7 linked regions of the Homo sapiens genome follow. The protein of the gene in region 1 interacts with the protein of each later gene in a pairwise test. Each region holds a gene or a part of one and is shown on either strand. Other genes may lie near its edges.

Region 1 (3,500 bases):
TCCAGGCCCTAGATTAGTGGTCATCTTTCAGAGAATGGCTAGAACTCGAGTCTTCTGGGATAGCCTACTAACACGCTTTACCATTGAGGAGTGTCTTCAAAACTCACATCATCTGAATTGCCATGCGTCTCTATATGTGAAAAGTAATTGGAAAGTGTTTCTTGTAGGGGGAAATGTTTTAGGGTTGTTGGGTATCAGTCCTAGAGCTGATTTATGTATATTTTCAACTTAAAAATTATTCCATAGAAATATTTGTGTTGCCGCAGGGGTTGTTAGCTGGGAACCCCAGTGTGTTCTGCTTTGCCTTTCACCCTGTCACAGGGGTTTTCACCTTGACGGCACACTAGATTCACCCAGAAGCTTTTAAAAATGGCAGCACATGGACTGCATCTCAAGAACTTCTCATTTTGGTTGACAGGGGCAGGGTAGAGACGTCACAATATTTTAAAAGCTCCCCAGCCGATTCTAATATGTGCCATGGGTGAAGCTCTAATGCATTCCAAATTGTTAGGAGGAGTAAACAGTTTAGAGAAGAGGTTGGTACCAGTGTGAAGAAGCATATAGAAGCAGAGCAATGCTTCCATAGGATTCTTGACTTTGTCACCCTGACTGCCTTGACCTGGTCACGGCTATGTAAGGCTGACCCTTAACTTGATGTGTAGCTGTGAACCCAACAGTTATGAGCACAAAGATAGTAAACTGAGGCCAGTAGGAGTGCCCAGTTCGGGTTGACTCCTGTGCTAGTTCAAGACAAAAATTTCCTAAATATATATGACGTTGGTTTGATACAGAACCAGCTTTTCTGTTTTCCTGTCCCCATTTAAAAATCTCCTATGTCAATTATACTAGTCTAAAAGACTCCTAGGCCTAATCTGTCTGATAAATTTCTGACGATCTTATTTCTGAGTCAGTCTCACCAACGTCTCTATACATTAATTAACATTATATACATACTCTTGATAACTTTAATAGTTAATATCTATTCTTTTCAGCAAGTTAAGCCCCAAATATTTTTTATTTCTATTTTAGATTTTGGGGGAGGGTTTGTGTATGTAGTGAAGGATCCCCAGTGACTTTCAGTTTTTATACAAGAAATCATTAATAAAGCTAAGAAATTAACTTAGCACATTCTGTTCATCTCTTGTATCAAGTGCAGTTTGTGATCATGTTGTTTTTGTCTAAAAACTTATTTGTAAATTTTTACAGTTCTAAGAATGTATTTTGTGCAATCATAAAGGTTTTATATTAATATATAAGTTATATAATTCACTCTGAAATATCTCAAAGCAAATATTTCTGAAATAAGTAAAATAGTGGTTCTCAAAGTTTTTGGTCATTACATACCTTTACATTCTTAAAAATCATTAGGGACCCCAAAAAACTTGTTTGTGGGTTTATATATTTTGATATTTACTATATTAGAAATTAAAACTGAGAAAATATATATTCATTCAAAAATAATACATTTTAACATAAGTAGCATTTTTTAGTGAAAATACCTATTTTCTATAAACCCTCCAAGTTAATAAGAATAGTGGCATTGTTTTACACATTTACAAATCTCTAATACCAAGCTTAATAGAAGACAGCTGGTTCTCATCTGTGTTTGCATTCTAACTGTTGTGCTATCACACATCATGTAGCCTTTGGAAAATTCCACTATACACATGGGAGAATGAGAATGAAAAAGGCAAATAAATCCTACTAGTATTGAGAAAGGAACTGTAACCTCAAAGACCCTCTGAAAGCGTCTTTGAGAACTACCTTATGCACTTTGAGAACTACTGGTGAATTATTTAATGATGAGGGAACTTTGAGAAAAAGAACTCTGAAGTTCCTGAATTTGAAGATTATTTTACCTTTAGTGGACAAAAGAGTAAATATAAGAGAATGTGACAGTTTGTGTCTGTAGATAGTATTTCCTTTGCAAATTTATCATTTTGAAGGATTTCATTACTACTGAAAAAGTGCAGAACATTTTGGGAGTAAGAATGCTCAATTTCATTTAGCCTTTTAATATCACATAAATTTTTCTTGTATAGGGTTATGATATATTCTCTGATTTGCTTTTTCAAAGCCATACTGCTGTAACTTTTAATTTTCTAATTTCTAGTAGAGACTAAGTCATTTGACAAAGTGAGAATTAAAACTAATAGCTGAATTCCTTCTCTTCTAGCCCTTCGCCACAAGAAGATGGGCAGATCATGTTTGATGTGGAAATGCACACCAGCAGGGACCATAGCTCTCAGGTGTGTCGGGGGGATTCTGATTTACAGTAAACAATTAAGAAAGATGTAAATTCTCTAAGTATATTTTGCTAAAATAAATGTGAAGACTTTTAGGAATAGTTTGAAGCTATTATTGAGTTTCTGATTTTGGAATTTATTTAGGATGATATAGTTCTTGTCGCACTCCTTTACAACTAAGGATTTTGGGCCCTGTCACTCTAAACGAATTGGAAAATTCTTGTCCATAATAAATCATGCCAATACTCCAGGCTAGTTTCTTGAGTGTATAAGTAGAAAAAGACTGAGATAGATGCTTTAAGACCACAGAATAGGGAGGAGCCAAGATGGCTGAATAGGAACAGCTCCGGTCTACAGCTCCCAGCATGAGCGACGCAGAAGACGGGTGATTTCTGCATTTCCATCTGAGGTACCGGGTTCATCTCACTAGGGAGTGCCAGACAGTGGGCGCAGGCCAGTGGGTGCGCGCACCGTGCGCGAGCCGAAGCAGGGCGAGGCATTGCCTCACCTGGGAAGCGCAAGGGGTCAGGGAGTTCCCTTTCCGAGTCAAAGAAAGGGGTGACGGACGCACCTGGAAAATCGGGTCACTCCCACCCGAATATTGTGCTTTTCAGACCGGCTTAAAAAACGGCGCACCACGAGACTATATCCCACACCTGGCTCGGAGGGTCCTATGCCCACGGAATCTCGCTGATTGCTAGCACAGCAGTCTGAGATCAAACTGCAAGGCGGCAGCGAGGCTGGGGGAGGGGCGCCCGCCATTGCCCAGGCTTGCTTAGGTAAACAGAGCAGCCGGGAAGCTCGAACTGGGTGGAGCCCACCACAGCTCAAGGAGGCCTGCCTGCCTCTGTAGGCTCCACCTCTGGGGGCAGGGCACAGACAAACAAAAAGACAGCAGTAACCTCTGCAGACTTAAATGTCCCTGTCTGACAGCTTTGAAGAGAGCAGTGGTTCTCCCAGCACGCAGCTGGAGATCTGAGAACGGGCAGACTGCCTCCTCAAGTGGGTCCCTGACCCCTGACCCCCGAGCAGCCTAACTGGGAGGCACCCCCCAGCAGGGGCACACTGACACCTCACACGGCAGGGTATTCCAACAGACCTGCAGCTGAGGGTCCTGTCTGTTAGAAGGAAAACTAACAAACAGAAAGGACATCCACACCGAAAACCCATCTGTACATCACCATCATCAAAGACCAAAAGTAGATAAAACCACAAAGATGGGGAAAAAACAGAACAGAAAAACTGGAAACTCTA
Region 2 (3,500 bases), on another chromosome or scaffold:
AAATGGCAGACGGTATGAAACGGTGTAAGATCAAAGCTCCCCTATTCAAACTTTTTGTTTCCACCACCAAAATATTTCTCTACGTAAGCAGCCATCCTCACAAAGAATACTATGTAAGACTGTTGAACCCAGAAAAGTAAAACACAAAGCTAGCAGACCTCATTGAGGACCTGTGGCCAGCTGGATCTAGATCCGATTTCCAGAAGGACGGAAGGGAACGCTAATGAAGGCTTGGCCAGCGCAGATGTGTTCCTGTACCCTAAATCCCTGCGGCTATTCCGCGAATGGCACGTCCAGCCAGGCCAAAGGTTTTTACCTTCCAGGACTTAGCCAAGTTCAGTCATTAGATGCATGTCCATTAGGTTCTGTTTCTTTAGTTAAAATAGGCATTTCTAATACTAGGTCACAATCAAATAAACTTAAATGTGCAAGGTAGAATCAAAACGGTGATTTATTTTCTTAAACTCATCCACCCTTTAAACATAAAGGAAAAAAGGGGAGGGGAGAGGGGAAGGGAGGGGAGGGGAGGGGAGAAGGGAGGGGAGAAGGGAGGGGAGAGGGGAGGGGGGAGGGGAGGGAGGGGAGGGGAGACGGCATGGAGGGGAGGGGAGAGGGGAGGGGAGGGGGAGGGGGAGGGGAGGGGAGGGGGAGGAGATGGGGAGGGGAGGGGGAGGAGAAAGGGGAGGAAAGGGGAGGGGAGAGGGGAGAAGGGAGGGGAGGGGGAAGAGGAGAGGGGAGGGAGAAAGAGAGAGGGAGAAAGAGAGGGAGAAAGAAAAGAATAGAAAAAAGAAAAGAAGAAAAGAAAAGCTAGAAAAAGCAGCCATAAATCCCATATGAAGGGGGATAGAGAGCTGGTCATCATTGGATGAAGTTTATAAGCCCACATATGAAACATGTCTTACATACAGTTACACTCCTCATTTCAGGAGTCATAACACACATTTTATTACATTGCACATCAGGTCAAATTGTTGAGTTATGTAGCAGTGCTAGGACATTTTTAATAACCCAAAAACACTTCTACTAAACAGCTGTTGTAATCAAACTTGCCTGTGTTGAAAATAAAACTAAAACTATATAATGAAAATACAAACAAGCCTAGGCAAGTAGCTTCTCTCATACGTTATATTCCACAGTGAAAACCAGCCTATATTTATTCTAAAGTACACAGAGCTTATTTTCAATGTCTTCTCTTTGGTATATTCTTATATAAGAAACTCAACAAATTCTACTGTATATTCTTCACACGTTATGCTCATTTATTTTTTTGAACACTAAGTTCTATTTCCAGGGAGAAACAAAATGGTAACTTTGAGGTTGGTACCATATTATACTTAGAACTTACATATCTGGAATAGATTTTGAGTTGGCAAAACCGTGTTCCCTGTCCTTTCTGACAACTGTTGCCATTTCATTTGCAGTCTCATTTCAGCTGTGAGGCATTTAACTCTCCCAATTTTGAAAAGCCTTCTTGGATAATTTTAGCATTCCCAAAACTTGCTGATAATACCCTAAGCTAAGGGAAAAGGCGTACCATCAGCAGCCCCCCGGCTGCCCTATCAATGGCTTGGAAAATCTATTAAGACGAATATTCTCACAACCCAATTGCCAACCCGGAACGATCAGACTGGTCTCTGTATTCCACGGTGCAGATGGAGTTTGTAAGAACGGGAAGGCCGGCTCTACTTCGGTGAGCGATAACACAGCTTTTCTGGTCAAACAGCTTCTGGAAAACACCACCTGATCGACGGGCGGGTACAGACAGACATTGGGAAACGACTTACCTCAACGTGAAGCGATCTTCAGTGGAATTTCTGGAGATGGAAACAGGAAAAGTCAGCACGTCTCCTTTCCTCACGGTCTTTGGTATATAGTGGATGGCCACGCTGTTGTCCAGACGCAGTTCTCTCAGGGAGGGTTTCCTGTGTGTCTGATAAAGGAAGATGCTCCCGATCCTCTGCAAGGGGGGCCCGGACTCATCGATGTCACTGTGGCCTGTCCGGATCCCATTGCTTCTCCTCGCGTCTTCCCTGACGCAGTCCCCTCTCTCACCCCCTGGGTGCACGGTGTAGTAGAGCTCCACGGGGGTCCCCTCCGGCTGGTCCACGGACTTCCTCCTCCCGGCAACCACCGTGGGGGGGCTGAACCAGCTGGACAGGAGCTCCAGCTCGGCCACGCACAGCCCCAGGTCCCCCTGCAGCCGGCAGCTGCCCCGCACCTCTCGGGTCTCTCGGAAAGCAAAGACCCTCAGGCACGGCAGCTTCTCCCCGGCGCTGCGGTCGTCCCAGTCTCTGCCCATGATGTGGAACAGAACCTGCACTTTGGGCCGGCTCAGGTAGACTTTGTCCCGCAGGATGTGGGCTTTTAGTTTCCAGTTAAGAGAAAATTTGTTGGTGAATCCAAATGGGTTGGAAGGTAGCATTAAATCCTGGGGCACCACTTGCTCGATGGAGAAAGGCCCGTAGCTGGCATTGAGGACAGGCAGCCTCCTGGATTTGTAAATCAGAAATGACTCCACCCGGGACTGCAGGCTGGAGTTCCTCATGATATCCTGGTTGGCCTCCTTCAGGAAGAAGGAGACGTCCGCGTTGTTGATGTGGTAGGTCACGGGGAGGTAGGTGGGCAGCAAGGAAAACCTCTGGATGCTCTCAAGGATCCCTCGACCTTCCGTCACTGTGGGGAGGGAATCGCAGTGCAGGCGTTAGTAATGCTAAGGTCCTGTTACCAGCATTTCAGACATCTGCGTGCCCCCTTCATAACAGAGGACCCTGTCTTCGCGCCAATTATGCAATTCCTTATCCAAACCTCTTAATCCAATCTACTCGCTTCATATTATTTGTTTCAGAAGAAATAAATGCCACCAACCTAAGTAGAAAACCAGTATCATTTAACCTATAAAAAAGTTGAGCATGCAAATAAATACAATTCAAATACAGTTTTAAAATTTCCACTCGTGATAATGGTGTTTTTATGGGGTTATGGTAAAGACTTGCTCTTTTTTTGATCAAAGGAGAGATTAGCAAGTGTTAGAAAGCTGTCACAGACAAGCTACCATCGACAGAGAGGCACCGTCCCATTGACTCAACACAGACTGAGATTGGAAACAGGAATGACTTCCTCAACACATGGATTGATGCCACGTCCACATTCCACCTGATACATATTCCTTTGTGTTCCACTCATATGCACGTTCTGCATATACGCACATGTCCAATGGGAAATGCTAACAGACTTGGGGCAAAAATAGACGCAGATGCACAATCATAAATCACATGGACAGTGGACACCCGCCCCCAGTTGGAGTTAAGGGGAGAGATGCAGAGAAAATACCTTGGAAGGATATATTGGGAGGGGCCCTCTAGAAATAGATGAGATGAGGTGACCACGACACCAATGTGTCAGGGCCGGGCGTACAAAGCAATGCTCCAAGTCATCTATGAAACACTGGACCCTGAACCTAAGAAGCACGGGAAGGGCAGCACCTCGCTTCCATGCCAGCC
Region 3 (3,500 bases), on another chromosome or scaffold:
GAGACCACACACAAAACACAAAACCACGAAAGGCAGGGGAGACTAGGCTGTGGTCCGTGAGTGGTGGATAGTGAGACAGGCTGTAAAAGGTGTGATTACGTAAATGCTATCTGCATTGTTCTTGTAGGTATTAAAACCAGAAAGCTGGCCGGGTGTGGTGGCTCATGCCTGTAATCCCAGCACTTTGGGAGGCCAAGGCAGGCTGATCGCTGGAGGTCAGGAGTTCAAGACCAGCCTGGCCAATATGGTGAAACCCCATCTCTATTAAAAACACAAAAATGAGCCTGGCATGGTGGTGCATGCCTGTAATCCCAGCTACTCAAGAGGCTGAGGCAGGAGAATCACTTGAACCCAAAGGCGGAGGTTGCAGTGAGTCGAGATCGCACCACTGCCCTCCAGCCTGGGCGACAGAGCAAGACTCTGTCTCAAAAAAAAAAGAAAACAGAAAAGCAAGGGAGACATGAATGAAATGTGTTCACCCATAGCGTTGCCTAAGTGTGTGTATATGGATTGATAAAGCAATCCTGCTGTATCAGAAGCATTGACCACTAGGATCCCTTCCAATGTTTAGACTCCATGCCTCTGGTTTTGTTGGCGAAGCGTGCTGAAGTTAGTGACACTGAGCATCAGCGCTGTCCGGATGTTACTATTGCAAGTTTCCTAGCTTATCATGAGCATGGGTCACCGTTGTCATTGCGGCTTGTACTTGGGGAGGGCCACGGTGCACTATTGTGGCCTGACATGGCTGCACTGCTGCAGGAAGACCGTGTAACACAGAGCCTGGGGGCCACCTTCTGCCCAGCTGGACTCCCCACTGCTGCACAGCCCAGGACTGTGGGAAATGAGCATGAAGCATTCCTAAAATAATTAGAAGCTTCTGTTTTCTTACATCTGGGCCCATGTGAACCCACAGATATAGCATGGGACACAGAGTATAGGCAGCAGGCCACGGGCCGTGGGGTCTGAGACCACACTGCGGACAAGCAGGTGGACCCCGAGGCCCAGAGTCTCCCCGACCCCAGCACCAGCCTGTTTGCTTTGGAGCCTGGCTCTGCCCTGCAGCAGTGCTCAGCCTGAGGAATTCCAGACTCCCCACCACTTTGGCCTTGTCGTTTCTAAGAAAGAGCTGGCCGCTGCAAGCTTGGACTGGCATCCTTTTCTGAGGATGTAGCTTTTCAACAGGGTCCAGGAGGAATCACTCCCTTGGGCTCTCCGGGGAAAAAAGCTTAATAAAGATGTCTCTCATTCTCTCATCCTCTTTGTCTTGTTACTCTTGTTTCAGATGTAGTTGCCCATTCAAATACTCTATTTCTGTTTCAGGAATATGTGTCTGGGAAGGAAGGCAGTTGACAGTTGTTGGAAATGAAAACCTAGTTTGCTTGAGATATTTCCTGCACGTCCCCTTGGCTGTGTGTTTGCAGCCCTGCTGGGAAAAGGTGGTGGGGGAGAGTTGTTTTGAGCTGGGAACATCAGCCTGGATTCTAAACTTAGGCCAGCCTGGCCCCAATTTTATATCGACTCTGTCCACCCTGTTTGCAGTCCTGATGGGAAAGAAAGTCTGGCTGGTATTCTCTCTTGTCTGAATATGCCTGAGCCGTGTTCCTTTCATCTCCTGAAGTAGTTGGAAGTGATGGTTGCCGTGTCTGGGCTGTTTAATGTCCAGGGCAGTCAGTGTCTCAGGGGTGAGAGGTTTTCTCCCTTACCAGTTACCTTCCAGCCCATAACGTTGGTTTCTGACTCTGATCCCCTTAACTTCTGCAAGATTCATGAAACTCTTTCTTAGCCATCAGATAGTAACCCAGAATTGAATAGTTTGGTGCTAGAGGGAAGGGAAGAGGGAAGGATCAAAGCCCAGGAAAGACTGGGAGCAGAGCACAGAGGCCCAGGGGGAAAAGGCCAAGTGGATGCCTGTAGGGAGAGGAGGAGGCTGTGATCGAGAAGGGCATGCATGAGGGAAGGAAGAGCTGGGAGACTGCCAGGTAATTCTCAGCCTGGATATTGTGAGCCGAGAGAGAGGAGGAGGCTGTAAGACCCAAGAAAGAGACAGCAGAGGGAGGAAAGAGTGGGATGGAGGGTACTGTCAGGAGAGAAGGCCAGGAGCAAACCTAAGTTCTTCCCTGCTCATGGCAGGCTCAGGAATCAGCTAGAGTTAAAGCTTACCCGGGGCTGCCAAGGGCTCAGGTGAATGCAGGGTGGACGCCGTCCTTGAAGTTCTAAGAATTTCAAGGAGATGCAAGGGTGGAGGATGTACCAGGCGGGGTTGAGTGGAGCTGGGAATCCTGTCACCCAGCATAGAGTGGGTGGGGGGCATGGGCTCACAGGTGTTGCCAAGCAGAATGTGGCAGGCTCAGCTCTGCTGAGATGAAGCTGAGAGCCCACGGGTGTGAGTGGTGCCCTGGGAGCAGCGCCCCTGGGGAAGACAGAGAGGAGGGACCTCGGGTCTGAGGAAGCTGGGAAGCAAGGCCGGGAAGGGGTCTGGTGCTGAGACCAGTTGGGGAACAAGTGTGAGACCTTGGAGGTGGCGCATGGTGGCTCAAAAGCTTGTGTGGAGGCAGAGGGGATGAGGGGGAGGGAGAAGGATGGGAGACATTGTCACTGTGGATTCTGATGTTGCAGGAATTGGGGTCAAAGAAGGAAAAAATGAGAGCCGGGGAGTAGTCAACCAGGAGGGCGCTGGCGGGTCTGGGGAGGGTGCGGAGTGTAGAAGCTGGAATAGGACTTTGTGGTGAGGGGTTAGAATGGGTGGGTTTAGGGAATGGCCAGGTGATGACATCAGCAGCCTGGAAGGGCAGCGGCCAGCCACCCTGTCCACGACTGAGCCTCGGCTCTCCTGAGGCTAGGTAAGACTCCCCTTTATGGGACGCAGTGTCAGGGCCCAGAAGAAGCACTTCAGAGCAGCACCTTTGCCTCTGTTTCAGGATCGCTGGTGACACAGCCCTCAACAAAAACATCCACGAGTCCGTCAGCGCCCAGATCCGGAAAAACTTTGCCAAGAGCAAATGGAGAGTAAGTGTGGAGTATATGAAATTCCCCGTGGATTAACCCCCTCGTGACACTGGCCCTCCAATCTGAGCATTTCTGAAATCCCCAGAACCTCACCTGAATAATTTTGCTAATTTTAACTGCAAGTAATAAAGACTCAGAGGGAATATTATGGTGTAAGAGGGATGGAGTGTGCAATTCAACACTTCCCCTCTGTGATCAAAGACAGCAATAGTGCCAGCTCTTCCTCATCTGCTGTTTCTTAACCAACATCACCCTTGTCTTTCTTCACCTTGCTAGAACTTTGAATAGCTGACTTTTATTAAAGCGATATGGAGGGGGAAAAAACAGGAAATCTGAGTTGTACTCATCAATGTTTCCTGATAAAAGTTTGACAGATTTAAACCATGGAGGTTTTGTGATCATCTGTTGATTACCTGACTTCCTAATCTCTTGATTACCTGACCTCCCCTCCGTGTTCCAATCAGCAATGGCAATTCAGAGCTAGCTATTTTGCC
Region 4 (3,500 bases), on another chromosome or scaffold:
TGATCCACCCGCTTCAGCCTCCCAAAGTGCTGGAATTACAAGCATGAGCCACCACACCCGGCCAGCAACCACTACTTTTAAGCCAACTTTTTAATAATTTAAATTTTAAGGAATGCCTTTGGTGTGAAAACATTGTGCAACTATACCTATCCATAGTTTGGAGGAGAAACAAGCATAAATTAAACCCAGTAGTGTAAGATGGGTGTTACCATGCCTCTCCTTCACTCTCACTGCACGTCCTGTTGTGATGGAGTTAAGTATGCCAGGCATATACAGCATGTGTGTAATAATGCTCCAAGGATGCAAGAGAGAAGGAAGGGTTTGGAGGTGAAATTAGGGAGAGACCACTTCCTCATTCCTGGTGATAAAGTCATCTGAACTATGCATCTCATGCGATTTCTTCACAGGGCATGTACCCTGTTCTAAAGTCCTCCAGTAGACATTTTAGGTAGCAGAAGAGTGAGAAGCTAAGGCTCTAGTTGTTGATTTATTAACATACAAGTTCAATTATTGGCGATTTTGTGAAATCCATAACATTTCTTAATTTCTAGATACTGCTAGGCCTTTCATACTGAATGACATAGGATTTCTAGCTTCAAAGGAGTTTTTAAGATAAAGACTTATGTTACATATTTTCAGATTACCCTTTTTTTTTTTTTGACACAGGGTCTTGCTCTGTCGCCCAGGCTTGAGTGCAGTGGTGCAATCTTGGCCCACTGCAGCCTCTGCCTCCTGGGGGCAAGCAATTCTATTATCTCAGCCTCCCAAGTAGCTGGGATTACAGGTGCCCGCCACCACACCCAGCTAATTTTTGTTAATTTTAGTAGAGACGGGATTTCGCCATGTTGGCCAGGCTGGTCTCAAACTCCTGACCTCAGGTGATCCGTCTGCCTCAGCCTCCCAAAGTGCTGGGATTACAGGCGTGAGCCATGGTGCCTGGCCGGATTACTCTTTTTAAAAGCTGTACTTGGTAACACTTCTAACCGTCATATATGAATGAATACAACGAAACTAATCATTTTAATTTTCATATTAAAATTAAATAGCAAGATTCCAAGAATACTAGAGGAAATTAGCTTACTTTAAACCTTTTAGATTATCTTTAACAGAATATCTGATGTGCTTGTTGGTCAGTAATATTTGTTAATGTCACAGACATGTTTACTTTGTAATAGCTTAATTGCATAATATCCTCATATAAAGCAAATTAATGAAATTTATTTCATTTTTTGAAATTGCTCACATGCTAATTAAATGAATGTTTTCTGACCCTGATACCTTCAGTGTCTTCATCTATTAATGGTTTTTTAATAAAACAGCAAAATTAAAAATTTTTACCTTCATATGCCAACACACACTAAGCTCTTGTTCTCTTTTATAGGGAAATCCTCATTGACGATTCAATTTGTTGAAGGCCAATTTGTGGACTCCTACGATCCAACCATAGAAAACAGTAAGTATTGTTTTCAAGTACTTAAAAACTGAGAAGCCTTCTTTTGTGTAAAATAGCCATTGTGTATTCATGGAGGCTTTGAGTGCAGGAGGTAAATTCTGTGTGTCTCCCAATTGGGGTCAAAGAAAACTTGCAAAAGATTTACCTACTTTACCCTGAAAGATTTTTCCTTCCATGTCTGCATCCCCTGCCATCTAGAAATTATTAATTCAAGTCAGTAGGAGTCTGGCCCATTACTGGAATCTTCAAATTCCAGAATCTGCTCCAAAACAGGAATGGAGAGCACAGTCTTCTCCCCCACACCCCCTTTCTCCCAGCCATTGCAGTTTCCAGGGATTCCAAGCTTGAAAGAATGAAAAACACTCGAGATCCCTGTTCCTTATTCTTACAGAAGCCGTACTCCCACCCACATTTCTCTATACCCTTCTTTCCAGCCCTAAAGATTTGAAAGAGAAATGAACTATTCTGGGATTGGATAGAGCAGTTGCAGCATTAAAAAGAAGTTGGCTCAAAAAGCCTGTTGACATTTTAGGCCATGTGCAGAAAAAAGCAGGGAAGACAGAACCAGCCATGACCTTTACTTTGTTCAATTTTAATCCATGGTTTCAGAATATTCCTGATGGATTCTAGGACCATGAGACTATTTATTTATTTTATTTTATTTTTTAAAGAGACATGAGTCTCACAGTGTTACCCAGGCTGGACTCAATATCCTGGACTCAAGTGATCCTCTTTCCTCAGCCTCCCAGGTGGCTGGAACTACAGGCATACAACACTGTGCCCAGCTTTGAGACAGATCTTGATTCTAGGGATCGCCAAGGATAATCTGAAGCAGGGAAGCTGGTCTTTTCAGGCTTAGAACCCCAGGTGGGCCCTGGAACTAGGTTTCTCAGATTCTTGAGACCAGGACTTATCTAGGATTTGTCACCAGGAACATGTAGATTTAAACATGGGATTCATCAACACCTGATTGGCATATTAGACACGAAGCATATTTCACCGGCCGGAGGCTTGCAAGAGAATCACTTGAATGCTTTGGCTGACAGTAAAGAGCTTGGCAAACGACAGCCTGCAGGCCAGCAAGGCCCATTTCCTGTCTTTATACAGACCAAGAGCTAAGAAAGGTTTTTCCATTTAAGCATAATATATAAAAGTCCAAAGAAGAATAATGTCTGGCATGTGAAAATTATATGAAATTCAAATGTTAACCTCTATAAAGTTTTATTGATACACAGCCATGCTTGTTCCTTTACATGTTGTCCTTTACATGCTGTACAATGGCAGAGTTGTTGAATAGTAAGAGCAGAGACCAGGTGGCCTACAAAGCCTAAAATATTTACTGGTACTGTCTGGCCCTTTACAGAAAAAGTTTGCTCACCCCTCGCTTAAAATATTTGGCTGTCCTTTGTGTTCCAGTGTGCTGGTAGCAGAGAAGGAAACCTGTTGGTTGATAAACTAACTCCAGGAATATTTTTGAAAGTAACCTTTCAAGATGTTATATTTGAAAGTAACCTCTGGGTATCTACAGGGAGGAGTCCTGATTACATCCTATGATTTGTCTAGCTGGTCATTATATAATAGTAAGCAAGTGTGAGGAGCAGATTAATGTGAGTGCTGGATGAACAAGCTCGGTTTTCTGTCCACTGGAATAAGAACATAAGAAAATCATCATCTTGGACCTTAATATTTGCTATACAAAGCAATTTAGGATTTTAGATCCTTGAAATAATAAGGTTCATTTTGGAATTGTATTAACAGAACAATAGAAGATTGTTTTCTTCGTAAGCTCTGCCTCTAAAAGTGGATATTGTGGCTGTATCCTCATGCCATTTCATACTGAGCTGGAATTAGCTGGGCGTGATGGTGTGTGCCTGTAGTCTCAGCTGAGACAGGCGGATCACTTGAACCCAGGAGTTTGAGGCTGCAGTGATCTGTAATCATGTCACTGTACTCCAGCCTGGGCAGCAGAGCAAGATGTGGTCTCAAAAGTAAAAACTGAGTTGGAAGGAAAGTCATGGAGTTGTGTATCATGGAGCTATATATACAT
Region 5 (3,500 bases), on another chromosome or scaffold:
GACACAAATTTACCTATGTAACAAACCTGTACATCCTGCACAGGTACCCATGAACTTAAAACAAAAGTTTTTTAAAAAAGAAAATAAGAATACCTATTCATCATTGGGTATATTGTACAAAAAATAAAAGCAAATTAAATGAAAAAAAAATTAGCCAGGCATAGTGGCACACACCTGTGGTCTCAGCTACTCCAGAGACTGAGGTGGGAGGATCACTTGAGCCTGGGAGGTCGAGGCTACAGTGAGCTATGATCTTGCCAATACACTCCAGCCTGGGGCGACAGAGTGGACCTTGTCTCAAAAGAAAACAACAATGACAAAAGAAAATCCCTATAGAAAATGAATAATTTTTTTTGGTAAGGTTGGTATATTTTTCCCTTTGGGTCTCAGAAATTATTTATGCATTAACGATAACCAGTGAAATCTAAGTATTGAAAATGTTTTATAAATAGACTTTTCTATGACTGTACCTCTCATATCATCTCCATTCATATTTCATATTGATGTGTAAGAGAATTCTGCATTGATCAAGACTCTTTGGATCTGTTTTGGGCAGCACTTATTCAATTATTAATATTTTAAAATCTTTTTTTATTTACCATTTACAGGAAATAGTAGTAGAAAAAAAGTATAGCTTTTTATGGTAATGTTTGAGGATCAAAACCTTAGTAAACTTTATTAGTATCTCATATCTATTTTAAACTTGAAAACATGTTATCTTATTAATTTTCCAGGTATAAAATGAACACTGTACATATCCTGCAAACGTTTAATTTATTCATATTGAAATCTAACGGAACTGCTAAGGATTTAGGTGATTACTTAAAAGACCTCGATATTTCTCCTAAGTGCTGTAGGAAACCATAGATACTTGGAGGCTGGTATGTTTGAGTCTCTGTGTGTGTATGAGATGTGTGTATATGGGGTGTGTGTGTATGTGATGTAATTGTGTTAATAGTTTATAAAGGGCTGGGCGTGGTGGCTCATGCCTGTAATCCCAGCACTTTGGGAGGCCAAGGCGGGCAGATCACGAGGTCAGGAGATCGAGACCATCCTGGCTAACACGGTGAAACCCCATCTCTACTAAAAATACAAAAAATTAGCCGGGCGTGGTAGTGGGCACCTGTGGTCCCAGCTACTCGGGAGGCTGAGGCAGGAGAATGCGTGAACCCGGGAGGCGGAGCTTGCAGTGAGCTGAGATCCTGCCACTGCACTCCAGCCTGGGTGACACAGCGAGACTCCATTTAAAAAAAAAAAGTTTATAAAGGTCACTTTGATCACATTGTGCACGGTAGGATAGAGGAGATAGGTATGGATGTGGGAGATATTGAACCAGTTCAAGTGAAACAATGGTGGATGAAAAGATATATGGGTGACAAAGTTGAGAACTATTTCAATGGTCTTTACCAACATGCTGACTTGGAAGATATAAGTGTTTTATCCCATGACTTTGATGACCCCTTTATGGTCCATCCATTTGCTTATTTCATCCAAGAACTCCACTGGTTAGATGATTATAATATTCACAACCCAGGCCACTCAATGTTATATCTCCAATATCGTAGGGACATAGAATATTTATTGATTTTGAATAGCATTATTTCTTATGCATTGGTCATGTTTTGCAGGGCTGGTGCAAACTTGAGATTGAATGGTCAGAAAGGAAAGTGTGGGAGTTGTATGCTTAGCATCTTACTTCTCAAACAGCTTGGTGTAGTATACAAAGTACTGATTCAGAATTTAGAGAGACCCTGAGTAATCTCTATTTTTTGCTAGCTGCTAACCTTGGACAAAGTTCTTAACTTTCCTTGTAAGTTGATCAGAGTAATAACTTTCTTGCAGGTTTGTTGTAGGTAAAGGCAGAAATGCATGTAGATGACCTGGAAGGATGCTGGGCTTCTCCTAAATAGTATCTTTGGTATTCTATTATGATTACTTTTGGAGCAGAACATAAGCTTGCAGGATAGTGTTAAATGCAAGGTAAAATTACTATTTTATATTTTGCTTGAAACTCAAATAAAGATAAATTTTTATACTTACCATCAAGATGCTCAGGATAATAAGATCATTCGTGTTCCACACCAAGCGTGAAGGTTTCATGTCTGCCTTGCTTTATTAGTGAAGATAAGTTTTTTCCTTGGCTATTTTTGGATGTGTTGAAACAAAGCAGTTTTATATCAACCAGTATAATTTTCCCCTTCTCTCACATCGAGAAGTGAGCAGGAGTTGTCTGTCTAAGCAAGTAGTTTTCACATATCCAACATGCATCTGCAAAAACTTAACAATATCCTCTAGAACACAGGGAATCTTTCTTGGACAAAGTTCTGCTCATGTTCAGCCTCTCTCTTAGAACTAGAACTGAGTGTTATTCCTGCTCAGTGGCTCCGTTTCACCCCACCAAAGCTGACAGTGGGGCATGTGTAACAGACTGAACTGGAAGTTGGAGGAAATGAAGTAAAATTACAGTTCTATCACATACTGGCTGTGGGAACGTGGATATGTCACTTAACTCACCGAGCTTTTTTTCATTGCCACCTGTAAATTGGGAACACATATATTACTTATCTCAAAAGATTGCTATGAAGATTAAATAAAGGCACATGTAAAGACACCTGGAATAGTGCCTGAATGTAGTAGGCAGTTGTATCCACCCAAACTAGTACTGAAAAGAAACTCATTGACTTCCATAAACTCAAAGTCTGAGGAGTAAAGATGGCTTCAGGCTTGGCTTGGCTCAGTGTCCAAATGATAATCCCAGGTTTTATGTGACAGTTCTGTTTCTTCTAAAATAGCTTCATTCTAGCTCCATATGGTGACTTTCAGAAGCTTTGAGATCTCCCCACACTATCTCAGTAAAAGAGAGATATATTACTACTCTCTGCTGTCATTATATATACTATGTGTCAAGCACTGCACTTTACACAAAGCTCACAGGGTACAAATGCAATGAGGTTGGTTCACTGAAGGCAGGAAGAGGGTACTGTTGCTATCAGAAGAGGAGTGGAGGTGAGGCTTTTAAAAACTAACAAAATATGTACAATATAGCATTTAATAATTGCTCAAAACAAATAAGGTCAAGAGGCTATTTGACTGTAATTGACATTTGCACTCACAATAGTGCCGATTTCCAGAGCAGTGGTTCTTAGCTAGAGGTGATTTTGCTCCTAAGGGACATTTGATAATGTCTGGAGACATTTTTGATTGTCACAACCTGGGCAGGGGGTGTTACTGGCATCTAGTGCATAAAAGGGCCAGAGATGCTGCTACAGGCACAGAATAGTCCTTGACAACAAAGGATTATCAGGTCTAATCATGTGGTTGAGAAACCCTACTCTAGCAGGTGTATGAGCCATTGAAAATCATCACTACCATTTACTGAGCCCTTACTATATGAAAGCCTCTGTACTAAGAGGCTCATTACCTCATTTGAGCTACTCATTATCATACAAACTAGGGGATACAGTTATTTCCCTCTTAAAATGAAACCTGGGCAATGGCAA
Region 6 (3,500 bases), on another chromosome or scaffold:
ATGGAAGCACGTCCATAGTACCTGGGCTACAGCTTGAAGGAGCTCTCAGTGAACTAATCTGGGACGAGTTGAGCAATGAGATAAATAGTGATAGTAAAGTGTTACCCATATGATAAATCTACACTGATCTACTATAGATCTACACTGATACAACTAAATGATTAAATAAGTAAATAAAATAAATAGAGGAGAAAGGGCAGTTCTTGCTCACATTAGAACTCTAATAAATGTAGAAGGAATGAAAATAGAAAATTACTTTTAGTCAAACATCACAGTAAGTTATAAGCAAGAATTATCAACAGATGCTAAAAATAGTGACTGAAAAAATTATGGAAGTATGATGAATCTTTATTTGCATAGTCTTCAAACTGTCTCTTCAAATGGTACTTTTTAGTGACAAAATGGTACATAACACTTTGTGGTAGAGAAACCTGGCAGAGAACACCTTAACCAAGTGATCAAAGTTAAGGTCACAGCACCAGAAAAAGTCATGTCAACATCATGAATCCCTTAATACAAGACACTGAAAATGGCAGAACATCACTTTGGTGACATTTGCAAAAAAAAATGTATAACTTCAATCTAATAATAAGGAAACATCAAAAAACCCAAATTGAGGGATATTCTACAAAATCATAGCCAGTCAACTTCTAAAATGTCAAAGACATGAAAGACAAGGAAAGAATAAGGAACTATCAAAGATGCAAGGAAAATACAGAAACATAATGACTAAATGCAATGAGGAATCCTGGATTGGGTCATGGAGCAGAAGGACATTAGTGGGAAACTGGTGAAATGTGAATAAGGAGTGTAAATTAGTTATCACTCTACCAATGTTAAAATCCTTGTTCTATGGTTATGGAAAATTTTAACTTTAGGGGAAATGATATATGGGAACTTTCCATACCCATTGTACATCTTTTCTGTAAGTGTATTTCAAAATAAAGTTATTTTTAAAGAAAGCCAGTGACCCAATTTGTAAGACAGCCTTAAAGAGAAACCAGGCTTTAAAAAACGTATATGAAAAAATGTTCAAGCATAGAAAACAAAAATTTAACCCATATTGTAAAGTTCAGCATAGCTAACTACCTAAAAACTGCTTTCCATTTCATCTTTTTCCTTGCACACAAGGGAACAACACCCTGGACATGGCTCCAGAGATCAACTTGCCGGGCCCAATGAGCCTCATTGATAACACTAAAGGGCAGCTGGTGGTGAATCCAGAAGCTCTGAAGATCCTATCTGCAATTACGCAGCCTGTGGTGGTGGTGGCGATTGTGGGCCTCTATCGCACAGGCAAATCCTACCTGATGAACAAGCTGGCTGGGAAGAAAAACGGTGAGTGACACCAGCAAAGCTCTAAGCCCCTTCTGTCCGTACACACGGCGAACATCCAGCTTAGGGATGTGAGCATAGAAAGAGATGAGAATGAATGTTGAAAGCTAACTTTCAGTCCATTAATGGGCTCTTTACATTGACTTTGGAGGATTACAGTCAACTGACTCTTCCCACTTTACTTTTATTTTATACTAAGGGTATAAATGTGCCTTTCTGGAAGGAACACAATGTTAATAAAGAAAATTAACTTCTATAATAATGACTTATAAAACATTTATTAAAATGTTCATGTAGTGACAGCAAGCTTTCAATGAACTTTAAGAAAAATATGAATGTTTCAGTGTGTATTAAATATCTAATTTTCCTGTTTCCAGGATTGTAATTAAGATTTATGCCAGTTGTATTTTCTTTTATCTCTTTTAACTTCAATTATGTTAACTTTTATCTCAATTTCCAGAAACACCTACTAAGTAATTTCTTTTCCCTTTTATCCTCTCCTTCTACAGGCTTCTCTCTAGGCTCCACAGTGAAGTCTCACACCAAGGGAATCTGGATGTGGTGTGTGCCTCATCCCAAGAAGCCAGAACACACCCTAGTTCTGCTCGACACTGAGGGCCTGGGAGATATAGAGAAGGTAAAAAAAATAAGTATTTTAAAAATTTCACTTAGGTAGATTAAAATCTACATAAACCAGGTCAGATCGATAACCATCTTTGCACAATCACTCCTACTCCTTGATTTAGGGCTCTAGTTAATTATATTAATATATTATTTCTTAAAATTTGTGTGGTATAAGCATTCAGAGTACACAATAAGTTCAATTGATTAATTATGGGTAAACCTATGAAATAATGGCTAATGATGTTTTCAGTTATTTCTCTTTCATATTATAGTAAAATGTTTTGGTGAGGCTGCTGAAGGTGCTTATAAACTTCAGTAGACGTTTTACAAACATGTCTGACTTTTTACAGTGGGATCCCACAAAGGTAGTAAAAATGTTCACATCCACACCAGCACCAGTAGAAAGAGAAGCAAAGTGTAAAATCTAATGATAACATCTTTGCTCATTAAGGATAATATATTACTACTGTTATAAATCTTAGACATAGAAAGCTTTTATTAAAGGAGCTTATTTTAACTACTGTGTAAAAAATATCTTACTATGATGTGCCATGGAAATGGAATAGGGTCATAAACTAAGTTTAGGGTACCAGTTTGAATTTTAGTAGCTGATCAAAATAGCTTCTCCTACCAAGTGCTCATGTGTTTCCTGCTGACATATATTTATATATAACACCTTAAATTATACATCATAAATATTATAAATTTGTTCTACAGGTAGAAAAAAATACTGCATAAGGAAGTGAGTTACCTAAGTTTTCAGAACTAATGAGAGACAGAGTTGGAGTTCAGTCAGTCTTCAGCTATCTGAATTGATTGTACATTCTGCTAGTCATTCTTCTTTGTGGCTTCTACAATGACTTACAGGGTGACAATGAGAATGACTCCTGGATCTTTGCCTTGGCCATCCTCCTGAGCAGCACCTTCGTGTACAATAGCATGGGAACCATCAACCAGCAGGCCATGGACCAACTTCAGTATCCTTTTTTGTGGTCCAGAACAGCAGTAAACCTAGAAAATAACAGCTTCATTTTTTCACCAAGTACAGAGGCAGACAGACAGGTACTGAAGAATTCATAAGTCCTCTCTTTAATAAATCTCATTATGCTGAACATCTCATTCTATCTCAATCTCCATCTGAACTTCAAGTCTTCCCAGTTACATGTCTCGTTAGATACTCAGCCACCCAAGACTCTGTATATCCTCTATCTGACTTAATCTCCTATGCCTGTCCAAACCTTCAATGTCCTCTAGAACTCATGTTCTCACTTCTGCAACTCTCTATATTCTTATCATCTGCTCTAAGTGTTGCCTTCTAAATGATACCTAGCTATACACTATAGATACTATTTCTCCTACAGACCTCTCCAGTGGTCTTATGTGATGACTATTTTTAATCCCATACCTTGCATATCATAAGTGTAAGAGATGAGTTAGGTATCCTCCTTGCTCCATATTAGAGTTCTGGACACTTTCTCATTCCTTTACCATTAAAAAGAGAATCTTCTTTAATATATATGCCCTCAGACTACACCACTATT
Region 7 (3,500 bases), on another chromosome or scaffold:
TTATAGGTGATTATCTTCTTCCTTATATCTTTTTTTCCCCCAAACTTTCTACAATGCATATGTATAATATTTACAGTTTAAAAATGCTTTAAATTTAGTTTGTAGCTTGCCCATGTTTAACCAGTGAGGTCTAAAATGCTAGCTATGTGATACGACTTAAGGCCCATAGGACTCAAAAATTGGAGTCTCCGTTAAAAAATGGTGTTTTCCAGTAATATGCAATGACGTGAAGATGAAAATGCTATTATATAAAGTAGTATATGGCATATAATTCCAATTTGTTAAAAAGTACACACATATATACTTATAAAGATACTAGAGGAAAACATAAAATGCCAACAGGTCAGTTGTTGGTGTAGGGCATGTGGGCGATTTACTTTCCCCTTTTTGTGTCCTTCTGTTTCCACTTATTTATTTATTTATTTTTAATTTTTAATTTTCTTTGAGATGGAGTCTCACTCTGTCACCCAGGCTGGAGTGCAGTGGCATGATCTCAGCTTACTGCAACATCTGCTTCCCGGCTTCAAGTAATTCTCCTGCCTCAGCCTCCCGAGTAGCTGGGATTACAGGTGCGCACCACAACGCCAGGCTAATTTTTGTATTTTTAGTAGAGATGAGGTTTCCTTATGTTGGCCAGGCTGGTCTCAAATTCCTGGCCTCAAGTGATCCACCCGCCTTGGCCTCCCAAAGTGCTGGGATTACAGGCATGAGCCACCACACCTGGCCCTGTTTCCAGTTATTTATAATGAACATTATCAGCATCTTTTATAATTTGAAAAAATTCAAAATTTAGTTTGAGAAGAAAAACATTGCCTCTATCTAGATATGGAATATCGGCTATCTTTTCAACTTGTCTTTCTCTCCCGTGCCTCCCAGCCATCCTTCTATTCCTCCTCCACTTGGTGCCATAGGTTCCTCTCGCCTTCCATTCCCATAGCTGCTCCTCTGTCCGCAGCTCATTTCCTCTTCTCCAGAACATAGCAATCTCTTAACCTAGTTTGTTTTCCTGCCGTCCCTTCTCTCTCTCTCTCTGACCTACTTCTGGAAGCACAAATGCTGGAATAATCCACGTGGATGACACTGCTCCCTTGCTTAACAGCCTGTGGCTCACCGTCCTAATGCTATTACTGGGAGTGTTCAGCCCAACCTTGTTACTGGCTGCCTTTACAGGGCTGGGGAGTGGGATGCAACAGTTACCAAGCCCCACCATGGGCCAGGCTCTGGAGGGCAGGCCCTTTTTTGTTAACTCACCTTTTGTGACAAAACCATGCAGCTTGACCATGCTAGCTTGGAAATAGGGTTCCAAAGTGTGTATTCATGCTACTTACAGACTCAGCTCTGCCGCTGACCTTGAACTTGTTTAATCCCCCTGCTTTTCCTCAGCTGTAACACAGATGTCCTGCCTCCCTCCCAGGGAGAGGCGAGGGCTGGGCACTCTGTGGCAGTTGGTAGCTGGTTTCCTTGCGAGCTGTTGTCCCTAAGGGATGCCCTGTACACCTTTGTTGCCCAGAGGTCTCGAACTGTGCTGACTGCCCCTTTGCTGTAAGAGCTCAGCCCAACTCATGAGCCCCCATTATCTCTCCAGCCCCAGGGTGGGCTCCACATGGCAGACGTTCCTCATCAGAAATGTCCCCAACTGTCACCTCCCCCATAAATGCATCCCTCTCAGATTTGACTCTGTTGAAATGTTCAGACCAGCGCCCCCAATTATCTTTATGTTCAGGGGTTCATTTCTTTGAATCTTGACGGGGCTCACTCTAGAACACCTACCAAATTGACAGGGCCACACTGGCTGCTCCCTTCCCCCTTAACCGCTTTGTCCTCATCTCCAGCAATGGCAACATAACCCCTCGGTCTCCCAAAGAAATCTAGGCCACAGCACCCACATCTCCCTCTCCTCAACTCCACATGCCAAATCCAGCTCCTTCTCTCTTTCCTAAGCATGGTCCAAGTCCATCCCACTACATTGCTTTGTGGGCCTAAAAGGAAGAGGCTGTAGCACAAACCAAGACTTAAGGAGTTTACTTGAGCCAAAGTGAGGACAGATTCCTGGAAGGCCCAGACCCAAGTAACCTTGGACATTATCTCTGTTTGGCCTTTGTTACAAGCAGTTTTTTTAAAAAGGCAAAAAAGAGGGACCGGGAGTGGGCTGATACAAAGTTGTTAGGAATTCTCATTAGTTTACAGAAATAACATTGATTAGCGACTGGTTATACATTGTTACACTACAGGGTGTGGGTTATAGTGTCCAGTGTGGCATTATTAGGTTATTTTTTAGCTACTTGTGCCAATGGCAAGCAGTTTCAAGAGATGAGGCCAGGTGTGGTGGCTCATGTCTGTAATCCCAGCACTTCGGGAGGCCGAGGTGGGTGGATAACTTGAGGTCAGGAGTTTGAGACCAGCCTGGCCAACATGGTGAAACCCTGCCTCTACTAAAAATACAAAAATTAGCCTGGCATGGTGTCTTATGCCTGTAATCCCAACTACTTGGGAGGCTGAGGCAGGAAAATCGCTTAAACCCAGGAGAACGAGGTTGCAGTGAGCCAAGATTGTGCCACTGCACTCCAGCCTGGGAGACAGAGAGATACTGTCCCAAATAATAATAATAATAATAATAATAATAATAATAATAATAATAAAAAGATGAATACACAGCTCAAAGTGGGGACTAGAACGTTATTGCTGTCTCATTTTCATGATTCTCTGGGCCTGATAATTTAAAAGGGCTTGCATTCCTCAGATAAAAGTTACTTTCTCACCTTTAGTCCATGACTTCCTCGCGTCTTGTCTGAACCGTTGCCATAGGCTCCTCTTATGCTTTCTTTGGCATCCCCAGCCTCACCCTGCCCCTACCCATGTCCCTCCTTCCCAAGGCAGCCACTGTTCCCGCTATTGCTGCCACTCAGGGCAGCATGACCTCGCTGGCACACTCCCTGTATTACCGACCTTGAGCTAAGTGCTTTACGCACTGACTCTTATCATTCTCTTGACAACCCCAGAAGGGTAGATTTTAAGATCTCCACTTGACAGATTAGCAAAACCAAGCTTCAGAGAGGTCAGCTAACTAGCCTCAGTGGTGGGCCGGGACCAGGCAGCCAGAGCCTGTCCCTGTAACCACTAGATGCTTGTGCTGCCTCCCTGCAGCGGCCTGGGCCTGTCTGTTGACTTCCTTGTGAACAGGCAGGGACCCTGGGTCTTTGGCTGTCAAATGTTTAATAAGTGAGTGCTTGCCTTGCACGGAACCCACACCACACTTACTCAGGCCCCTGGCTTTGGTTGGGGTCAGGCTCCATCATTTGCTGACCCTTATCTTTAAAAGTTCACCCTGAGGGGAGGAATGTTTTTAAAAGTTTTAAGTTATAGCATCCATTACAAAAACGTTTTCCATTGTGAAACCCCACAGAATTGATATTGTGCTGCAAGGATCAATCCTGCCTGACGCAGGTCTGCCAGCTGCCAAAAAACTGGTTAAACGTGTTAAGTTCAGAAAACCTATTGTC

Evidence for each region.
Region 2: the proteins of BNIP3L (region 1) and TMEM132D interact in a two-hybrid assay, tested with the Homo sapiens proteins (one large-scale study listed by BioGRID).
Region 3: the proteins of BNIP3L (region 1) and CAMK1D interact in a two-hybrid assay, tested with the Homo sapiens proteins (one large-scale study listed by BioGRID and IntAct).
Region 4: the proteins of BNIP3L (region 1) and RHEB interact in a two-hybrid assay, tested with the Homo sapiens proteins (one study listed by BioGRID).
Region 5: the proteins of BNIP3L (region 1) and DOK5 interact in a two-hybrid assay, tested with the Homo sapiens proteins (one large-scale study listed by BioGRID and IntAct).
Region 6: the proteins of BNIP3L (region 1) and GBP2 interact in a two-hybrid assay, tested with the Homo sapiens proteins (one large-scale study listed by BioGRID and IntAct).
Region 7: the proteins of BNIP3L (region 1) and GNB5 interact in a two-hybrid assay, tested with the Homo sapiens proteins (one large-scale study listed by BioGRID and IntAct).

What each region holds. Positions count from the first base shown.
Region 1 is NC_000008.11:26,393,054-26,396,553, forward strand, and holds part of BNIP3L (BCL2/adenovirus E1B 19 kDa protein-interacting protein 3-like), read left to right. Parts: intron 1-2,176; coding exon 2,177-2,249; intron 2,250-3,500.
Region 2 is NC_000012.12:129,698,026-129,701,525, forward strand, and holds part of TMEM132D (transmembrane protein 132D precursor), read right to left. Parts: intron 2,674-3,500; coding exon 1,785-2,673; intron 1-1,784. UniProt on the Homo sapiens protein: Regulate neuronals morphology via inhibition of the WAVE regulatory complex (WCR), a complex that controls F-actin cytoskeletal dynamics.
Region 3 is NC_000010.11:12,821,547-12,825,046, forward strand, and holds part of CAMK1D (calcium/calmodulin-dependent protein kinase type 1D), read left to right. Parts: intron 1-2,918; coding exon 2,919-3,006; intron 3,007-3,500. UniProt on the Homo sapiens protein: Calcium/calmodulin-dependent protein kinase that operates in the calcium-triggered CaMKK-CaMK1 signaling cascade and, upon calcium influx, activates CREB-dependent gene transcription, regulates calcium-mediated granulocyte function and respiratory burst and promotes basal dendritic growth of hippocampal neurons.
Region 4 is NC_000007.14:151,488,896-151,492,395, reverse strand, and holds part of RHEB (GTP-binding protein Rheb), read left to right. Parts: intron 1-1,381; coding exon 1,382-1,453; intron 1,454-3,500. UniProt on the Homo sapiens protein: Small GTPase that acts as an allosteric activator of the canonical mTORC1 complex, an evolutionarily conserved central nutrient sensor that stimulates anabolic reactions and macromolecule biosynthesis to promote cellular biomass generation and growth.
Region 5 is NC_000020.11:54,594,093-54,597,592, forward strand, and holds part of DOK5 (docking protein 5), read left to right. Parts: intron 1-3,500.
Region 6 is NC_000001.11:89,119,615-89,123,114, reverse strand, and holds part of GBP2 (guanylate-binding protein 2), read left to right. Parts: exon of another isoform or gene 1-1,131; 5' UTR 1,132-1,148; coding exon 1,149-1,338; exon of another isoform or gene 1,339-1,844; coding exon 1,845-1,972; exon of another isoform or gene 1,973-2,826; coding exon 2,827-2,936; exon of another isoform or gene 2,937-3,500.
Region 7 is NC_000015.10:52,184,893-52,188,392, reverse strand, and holds part of GNB5 (guanine nucleotide-binding protein subunit beta-5), read left to right. Parts: intron 1-3,500. UniProt on the Homo sapiens protein: Enhances GTPase-activating protein (GAP) activity of regulator of G protein signaling (RGS) proteins, such as RGS7 and RGS9, hence involved in the termination of the signaling initiated by the G protein coupled receptors (GPCRs) by accelerating the GTP hydrolysis on the G-alpha subunits, thereby promoting their inactivation.